Linked DNA regions of Homo sapiens. The protein of the gene in region 1 interacts with the protein of each later gene in a biochemical or structural test. Each region holds a gene or a part of one and is shown on either strand. Other genes may lie near its edges.

Region 1 (3,817 bases):
TAGGAGCATGAACCCAAATGTGAACTGTGCATGCAAGGGATCTAGATTGTGTGCTCCTTAGGAGAGTCTAATGCCTGATGTTCTGAGGTGAAACCCCCCAGTCTGTGGAAAAATTATCTTCCACGAAACCAGTCCCTAGTGCCAAAAAGGTTGGGGACCGCTCCCTAGGATACCACTTTACTATGCTTACTCCAGATGAGTTTGGAATTGTATGTCACTTACCATTGCCATTTTTTTGTCTTGCATTTTTATTTCATGAGTACTGTTTTATTGCCACGGGTCTCATTTGAGAGTAAATTGGATAGAAAGTCTAATAATGTGACAAATGATGACCTTTTTTTTTTTGTCTTGGGAAGATCTTATTAAAGAAAATTATGTGTGTGTTTTGTTCTACCCAGAGCAGGATCTGGGTAGAAGAGGATGGGTGCTAGATTCTTTGTGTTTTGCTACCACAGATTACAGTCAAATATATAACAAGTAACTTGTTTTAGTAGTTCTTTAGAAATTTCTATTCTCGTAAGATAAATTCATTGAGTTGTCTAGAAATCATCATCTGATAAATACTCATTCCAATATTCATTTCCAAAGAAATGAATTAGTCACCTGTTTCCGAAATCTTCCCAACACAAAGGTGGTGATAATACCAGGTATCCAAAGGTGCAGAAAACTTTCCTGTGGGTGACATTGTTAATGACTCTTAGCAGACAGAGCCAAGCAGTCGGCCTGTGGTGGTGGTTCTGTATCATTTTGTCATATTAAATGGGGAGGTTAAACTTTTGCTTTTTTACAGTTTGACAGTGGCTGTTGACCTTTTGCTGCTTGAAGCACTTTTAGGATTGTTATCTCAGCCTTTCATTATAGTACATCAAAATTCACTTTTATTAATCTTGCAGTTGTTAGAGATGAGAAGGACACTCACCCTATTGTCAGTGAGCCTGAAATCTAATAAGGAAGACAGGATGTAAGCAGTTTCTAAGTACAGCACAATGCAGAAAGAGGTGAACATTAAATAAATGAACAGAGAGTGCCCTATCAAAGACTTGGTTAATTCTGAAAAAGATTAATGAAGGGCTTGCAGAGGAGGTGGCATTTTATTTGCATCTTAAAAGGAGGGAAGGAATTTTTTTTTTATTACTGTCAGGAGGATGGAGAGACCAGGAGGATATATCAAGCTGAGAAATGGAAGCTCTATAAATAGGGAGCCCCATAAACAGGGAGCCCCCAGTGTTCATATTCTTATTGGTGAACATAAGTAGACCTGTGAGGTTGAAGTGTGCATTGTGTCAAATATTGAAATGGTAGGTCAAGGGAAATGGCTGTTTAAGAATTAGATTATGTTCTTTGAAGGCTATACCTCGAACTATGAGCAGGAAAAAAATCATTACTGTTTTGTAGGAGAGGAGTGAAAGCTGCTTATTCATATTTTAGGAAGGTAGCTCTGGCATCATTGTGAAAGATGTACTGAAATGAACATTTGGAAGCTTGGGAGGTGGTCATTGCAGTAGATCAAAGACAAAAGAATGAGAACCTTAAATTCATTGGGGTGAAGATGCAAAGGAAAGGATAGATGAGAGGTGAAAGAATGTTTGGAGGTAGATTTGTCATGTTTTGACTATTCTGAGATGTACATTTTTTTTCAAATTATAACATCTCTGGAATCTGATTGTATCTTAACAATTGTAATTGACAGTTTTTCATTCTTAGTGATACATAAAATATTGGTGAATCTTCAAATCTGTGGCTTCTTAGACTTAATGTATAATACCAGCGTCTGGTGACAGTTTGGATGGTGAGGATAAGTAAAAAGAGTGATTCAGAGATAGCTCTGTTGTAGCTCAAGTGGAGAAGTAGTGATCTCATTAACTTAGGTGGGAGGGTGTGCAGGAAGAGGAGCAAGTGTGTAGTGGAGGCCAAATTATGGTTGAGGCAGCTGCAGGATCCTTATATGTAGTCGGCTCCTAGGCACTTGGATATAGTAATATTACCTTTTTTTTTTTTTTTGAGGGATTGCTATGTAGAAGTGTCTGTGCTGACATCCATTATATTATCTTAAACCTGAATGAAAAGGTTACTAGGTTAAGCCACAGTTTTCAGAGGCAGAAACTGATGCCCACAGTAGCTAAAGGGCTTACCCAAGGTCAGACTGCTCAATAAATGGCAGAACTGGAGTTGGCCCCAGGTTTGTCTGTCAGAGCCTAAGCTCTGCCACTTACTGACTCCAGTTACAGAGGGAGACTTGGGAGTTGTCAGCATAGAATAGATGTTAATGCCATGTGACACATGAGATTGAGAGAGAAAATAGAACACATCAGATAAGATGGCCCAGAACAAAACATTAGAGAAGGCAGTTATACCACCTTTAGTATCTTGACTATAAGCATCCCACTCTCTGATCCTGTTTCTATCATACTTATTCTCTACCATTACTTCAACCTCATGGAGACATTTTTGTTGACCCTATCACTTTTTCACTGTTATCATTACCGCTTGTGTACTTGTTTCCCTTATTATTCGTGGTCATTTGTTATCATCAGTCCCTGTCTCTTCCTCCTTGGCAAAACCCCAACTCTGGGTAAACCAAACTACTCATCTACTTCCTTCCTGAGTCTCCACAGCTAAATATTGATAAGAAAAATACACACCTACGTTAATTAATCTTACTTTGCATTAGAAACCACAGACCTGGAAAAGGAACTCAACAATGTATAGCAATCTGCTACCTATCCCTAGTAAATTAGCTTTCTCACTTTTCAAAATTACTGCTTTATTCTCCTGTCTTCTCAAATCTGTAACCCACTTCCCTTCTCGTTTTCAGCTGATAACTTCACCTCATATTTGATGACAAAAGATAAGCAGCTGAGATAGTGGGAACATGAATTTCCTCATTTTTCCATCCACAGATCTTCCAACCCCTTTGTGTTTGTTCACACACCCCCTATTTTCCCTTCTGTTGCAAAAGAAGACAAACCCTCACTCCTGTATGTGCCAAAATCTCCTTTTGTGCTTTGGATCCCTTTCCCCTCTTGACTTCTTAGGGACTTTGTTGCCTATCGCTGTAATACCCCCATCACTCTTCATCCATCACTAATATCCTCTCTTTATCATTCCCATTGGTATTCCTAACCGTCGTCTCATTTTTATGCTCTCTCCTTTACAGCAAAACATGAAAGAATTGTCTGTATTTTCTGTCTTCACTTCTTCATCTTTCATTGTCTCTCAACCTCCAGTCAGGTTTCCATCCCCAACATTCGCTGAAACAGTGCTTGTCGGTAACTGATCAGAGTGACTTCCAAGCAGTTAAATCCCATAGTCACATCTCAGTGCACATCAAACTCAATCTCACATCAATATTTTACTTATCTGGCCGCTGCCTCTCTCTTGAAAAACTTTCTTGCCTTGACTTCTGTGATATCATATTCTCCTTTCCTACATCACAGGACCCCTCCTTGTCAGTTTCCTCTGCTGGTTGCTCTTCCTCTTCCTTTGCTTGCTGGAGTGCCTTCTTTTCTCCAGCTGTTTTGTCCATTCATGAGATCTCCTCCAGTCCTATGGCCTTATATGCTCATGTCTTTTATGGCAGTGACTCAAAACCTGCCTTGTTGAACTTGTCCACTTAAAAATGGGCTTAGCATCACAAATTTAGCATGGCTAAAACAGAATTCTTGATTTTTACCTTGTGCGAAATCTGCTTTTCTTGTCTTTGCCACTTCAGTATATGATAACACCAACTACTGAGTTGCTCAAAACCATTTCATAGATTGGGGAGATAATATTTAACCTTTGTTGTGGGAGCAAATACATGAAAAATACTGATTCT
Region 2 (4,271 bases), on another chromosome or scaffold:
CTGAGGTCAGGAGTTCGAGACCAGGCTGACCAACATGAAGAAACCCCATCTCTACTAAAAATACAAAAAAAAAAAAAAAAAATTAGCCAGGCGTCGTGGCTAATGCCTGTAATCCCAGCTACTTGGGAGGTTGAGGCAGGAGAATTGCTTGAACCCAGGAGGCGGAGATTGCTGTGAGCTGAGATCTCGCTATTGCACACCAGCCTGGGCAACAAGAGCAAAACTCTATCTCAAAAAAAAAAAAAAGAATCACAAAAGCCTACTACACTAAACATTTCTAGCATACGACTACTCAAGAGTCAAAATTTAAGATACTTCCCATACTATCTTAATTTTTCCTTCTAGTGAATAATATCCTGCATTTACATGTGACTACATTCTCTCTCTCTCTTAATAGACAAAGTCTTGCTATGTTGCTCAAGCTGGAGTCCAGTGGCCATTCACAGGTGCCTTCATAGCACACAGTAGCCTGGAACTCCTGGGGTGAAGTGTCCTCCCTCCTTAGCCTCCCAAGTAGCTGGGACTATGGGCACACACCACCCGGCTTACATTCTCATTTGGCAGTACTTTGTTATCTCCCTAGCTGAAATGATGATTTACCTACTATTTTAAAAAAGAGATAAATAAAGTCACAGATACACACTTTCATTGTTCGGCAGAAAGTAAGCATCTTCTCAAGTGGCTTTGATTATTCTGGGCACGGTTGCATGCATTAATTATGCTTCTCAAATTCCAGTGAGTGATATGCATCATTACTGTCCCTTTACCCACATCAGAATAATGCAGTTTGCTCCAACGGAAGGCATGAAGAATTGAGAATGAGGTGGCTCAACTTTTTACGTTTTAGTTTCCTCACTAGCTAAATATAACCTAGTGAATGAGTGGTACGAAGGAATTTGTCAGAGCTGCTACGAGGTCCAAACATCCTAAGTGAAAGTGCATCTAAAAGTTCAAATTTTAAAATTAATGTAAGGCACTGAAAACGTGAAGAAACATGTATTGAGTACTTATTATAAGTAATGTACCACAGCTTTAATGGTTGTTTAAAAGATGCATTAGGGAGCAATTGAAAATAAAAGGAATAGCTACAGAGTTTGGGAAGGCACAGGGAAAAGAGTGGCTCAGTATCGAAGATAAAATTCGGGAGAAGACACAATCAGATTTTGAGAGATGGACAAGTCAACCTTAGAATAATTTCCCTTATTTAACCTGTCTTTCCCCTAATAGCAGCACACTCATCTTTCAACTTGCTTTTCCCCACGTTACATATATAATTTGGGAGAAGGAACAAAAAAGCTAGGGGAATTGCAATGACCTAATTGAGATATAAAAGATACTCTCTACATTGAATAGTTACAAACACTTAGAAACAGTATGAAAGGAGGCAGAGATACCAACAGCACTGGAACTGACAATGGAGATCAAATCTCAAAAAGCAGTTTTCTATAGCTTAGTCATACTTGGCTCAATTTTTCACTTTTTGTACTTAAACGTATGGCAATTTTTGGTGCTTTATTTAGTAATTACGTCATTTTGCCTGATAATACAATTTCAGTACATTACTTTCCTTAAATCATTTCCCTTTGGTTAAACAGAAAAAGCAGAATTGGTCTTCAGGCAGGTATGCTCAAATCAAATGATCTCCTTTCCCCATCATGGCAATGTTCTTTCAGTGGTCACCTTCCCTTCAATATTCTTTCATGCAGCAAAGTATCTGAGTCTTTAATCTTGTACTAGGAACTGTCCTGGCACCGGGGAAACCACGTCAACAGGGCTCACATGATCCCTGTCCCTGCCCTCAAGGAGACAGACAACAAATAAACGAATACAATAATTACACGGGGATCAGGGCTGTAAAGGGTACTCTACTAAAGTTAGAGGCTGCGGAACTAATTTGAAGAGGATAGTCAGGGAAGGCCACTCTGAGACCGATTTAGGCAGAGACCTGAAGAAAGATGGATTTGGATAAACAGTTTAAGGAGAGGAAGGAGAGTTCAAGGAAGAGGTACCAATTACACTCATGCTGTGTATGTAAAGGAGGAGGGATAAGAAGAACATTCACTCCAGGCATAGAGACCACAAAGTGCATCTTGGAGAAAAATAAGCGCGTTGCAGAGGGTTAGGTGGCCAGAGTAGCTGAAGCTTTAGGAGCAAGAGACATAAAACGAGATTATAAACGTGGGTTAAGTACCACATCATACAGGGCCGTGCAGGCTATGGCAAGGAGTCTAGATTTTATTTAAATGCCAAGAGAAGTAGGATTACTTCGGATAGCTGAATTACACTATCTTTCTTTTTTGTTAAAAGATCACGCGGGTAAAACGAGATGTGTCGAGGAAAAGTTTTAAATGCAGAGAACCTAAGTCAGATGCAAAAATTATGCACTTTTCCGGGCCTCAGGTTTTCCATAAATAAAGCAAGTGGTTTGAACTAGAAGCCATTTCCTTCCCGCTGCGACGTGGTGAGTTCTAAGAGCAGGGGCCGCGTCAGATTGACCATGGAATTCCCCTCATCGACGCCGGCGCCCAGAACACAACTGGCGCCCTGAAACTGTTGGTCAGCGCAATAAATCAATGAATGGCCTGCTACGGGCGTGGGACCAGGCCCCGGCGCCCGCAAAGAACGCGATGGGTCGCGCTGAAGGCCGCGAGAGGCGTCCGGCAAGGAAATAGGGGCCGGCTCCACCACAACCAAAGCGTGCCGAGGAGGGGAACCGGGGCCTTGGAGATTGAGGGCAGAAAAAAATCAGACTAGGGACCCGACACCGGGAATTAGGAGAGAAGGCCGAAACGTGGGTCTGAGAAAGGATTCTGGTTCCAAGCCTGGGGGCCCAGCCACTCACCGCAGCCGTCGCCAGGCTGTGCATGTTGTGAGCGGCCGCCGCTCTCTTCCACAGCCGGACGCGTCCGACCCGCGTCCCCCCTTCAGCACCCCTGCAGCGGAAAACAATGAGCCGCCGTAGCCGCCATCCGACTCCGGCTCGCTCCGCCCACTTCGCGGCCCTCTGACCTCTCACCCCTGACCCCACCCACACATCCTCTTCCCGCCTCCAGGGCCTAGTTAACAGTCCCAGAGTATGTCCTTTGCCCCTTAAGATTTAGGACCGGAAGGACGTCCGCGACCACTAGTCCCCGCAACTTCTGGCTTTGAGCAGTTATTTCCAGAGAGCGGCGTGAACTCTGACCCTCCTCCAAAAGCCAGTGAACGGCGGGAAAAGATGGACAGTCCCGGCAAGACAACTATTGCGCATGCCCGACTGGGTTGCGTAGGAGGGAAATGGTGGGGGGGCGTCGAAATCGGGTGAGGTGGAAAGTGCGCGTGCCTACTACAGTCACGGCAGGGGCGGGGCTGCCCGGGCTAGGCCGCTCTAGGTACTGGCGGGGCGGGGCGAGGGCGTGTGAGGGGCGGAGTTTTCGACTGACGCGCACGCGCCTGTCTGGTCGCGTCGAGTGTGCGTGCGTGCGTGCGTGTTTGCGTGTGGTCACAGTTCCCGCCATCAGCCGCTCTCCCTGACTAGGGGTAGCTAGCGGCCTCCCTCCTTTGGGTTCGGTATCCCTACTTCCATTACCCTCGGCTCCTCCCACTCCTCGCGGGCTCCGTGCTTTCCGCGGGTCTGTCCGGGGGCTCCGGACCCTCGGCGCAGGTAAGGCGGGCCGGGGTAGCTTCTCAATTGAGCCGTTTTCCCTACCTCCTCCTCCTTCTGTGCGATCCGCCCACTCGGCGTTCACTCCTCTGGAGTTCGCCCTGCTGCTACTCAGCCCGCCCACAACCCCTCGATGCACCCCCAGCCTCACAGGTACTACCTTTGGGTGCACTGCCCCGGCTTCCACCTCTCCTTTGACTTGGTCTCCACTGCCACTCGCTCCCTCCGAAACTCAAACCTGGCCCCTTTTCTCTGGGGCTGTTGTCGTTCGCCTCTTACCTTCTAACAGGGCCTGCTGTCTCTTCAGGTGACTTTCGTTACGGCACATCCACCAGGCCTTGGACATGATACTCATTCACTCTCTTGACCATCTTCACCTTCCTCTTGACCAGTCCTCACTGCAAAACATGAATTGTATTTTTGTTGTGCATTTCCTTGCGCCCATTTCTAGCCGCCAGATCAGGTTGTTAGATGTAACTATTTTAAGTCATGATCCATGAAAGGAAATGATGATTGATGATAAAATCCTGTGTCCTGAAGAGTTGTCCTAAAGTGGTTTTGGGGTATTCCTCTCAAAATTTCAGCTCTGTATAAATTCCTTTATTGAGGTGGCAATTCCTGACAAGTG

Evidence for each region.
Region 2: the proteins of OBI1 (region 1) and CNOT9 form a complex in vitro, tested with the Homo sapiens proteins (one study listed by BioGRID).

The regions. Positions count from the first base shown.
Region 1 is NC_000013.11:78,648,928-78,652,744, reverse strand, and holds part of OBI1 (ORC ubiquitin ligase 1), read left to right. Parts: intron 1-3,817. UniProt on the Homo sapiens protein: E3 ubiquitin ligase essential for DNA replication origin activation during S phase.
Region 2 is NC_000002.12:218,567,550-218,571,820, reverse strand, and holds the start of CNOT9 (CCR4-NOT transcription complex subunit 9), read right to left. Parts: upstream 2,983-4,271; 5' UTR 2,867-2,982; coding exon 2,843-2,866; intron 1-2,842. UniProt on the Homo sapiens protein: Component of the CCR4-NOT complex which is one of the major cellular mRNA deadenylases and is linked to various cellular processes including bulk mRNA degradation, miRNA-mediated repression, translational repression during translational initiation and general transcription regulation.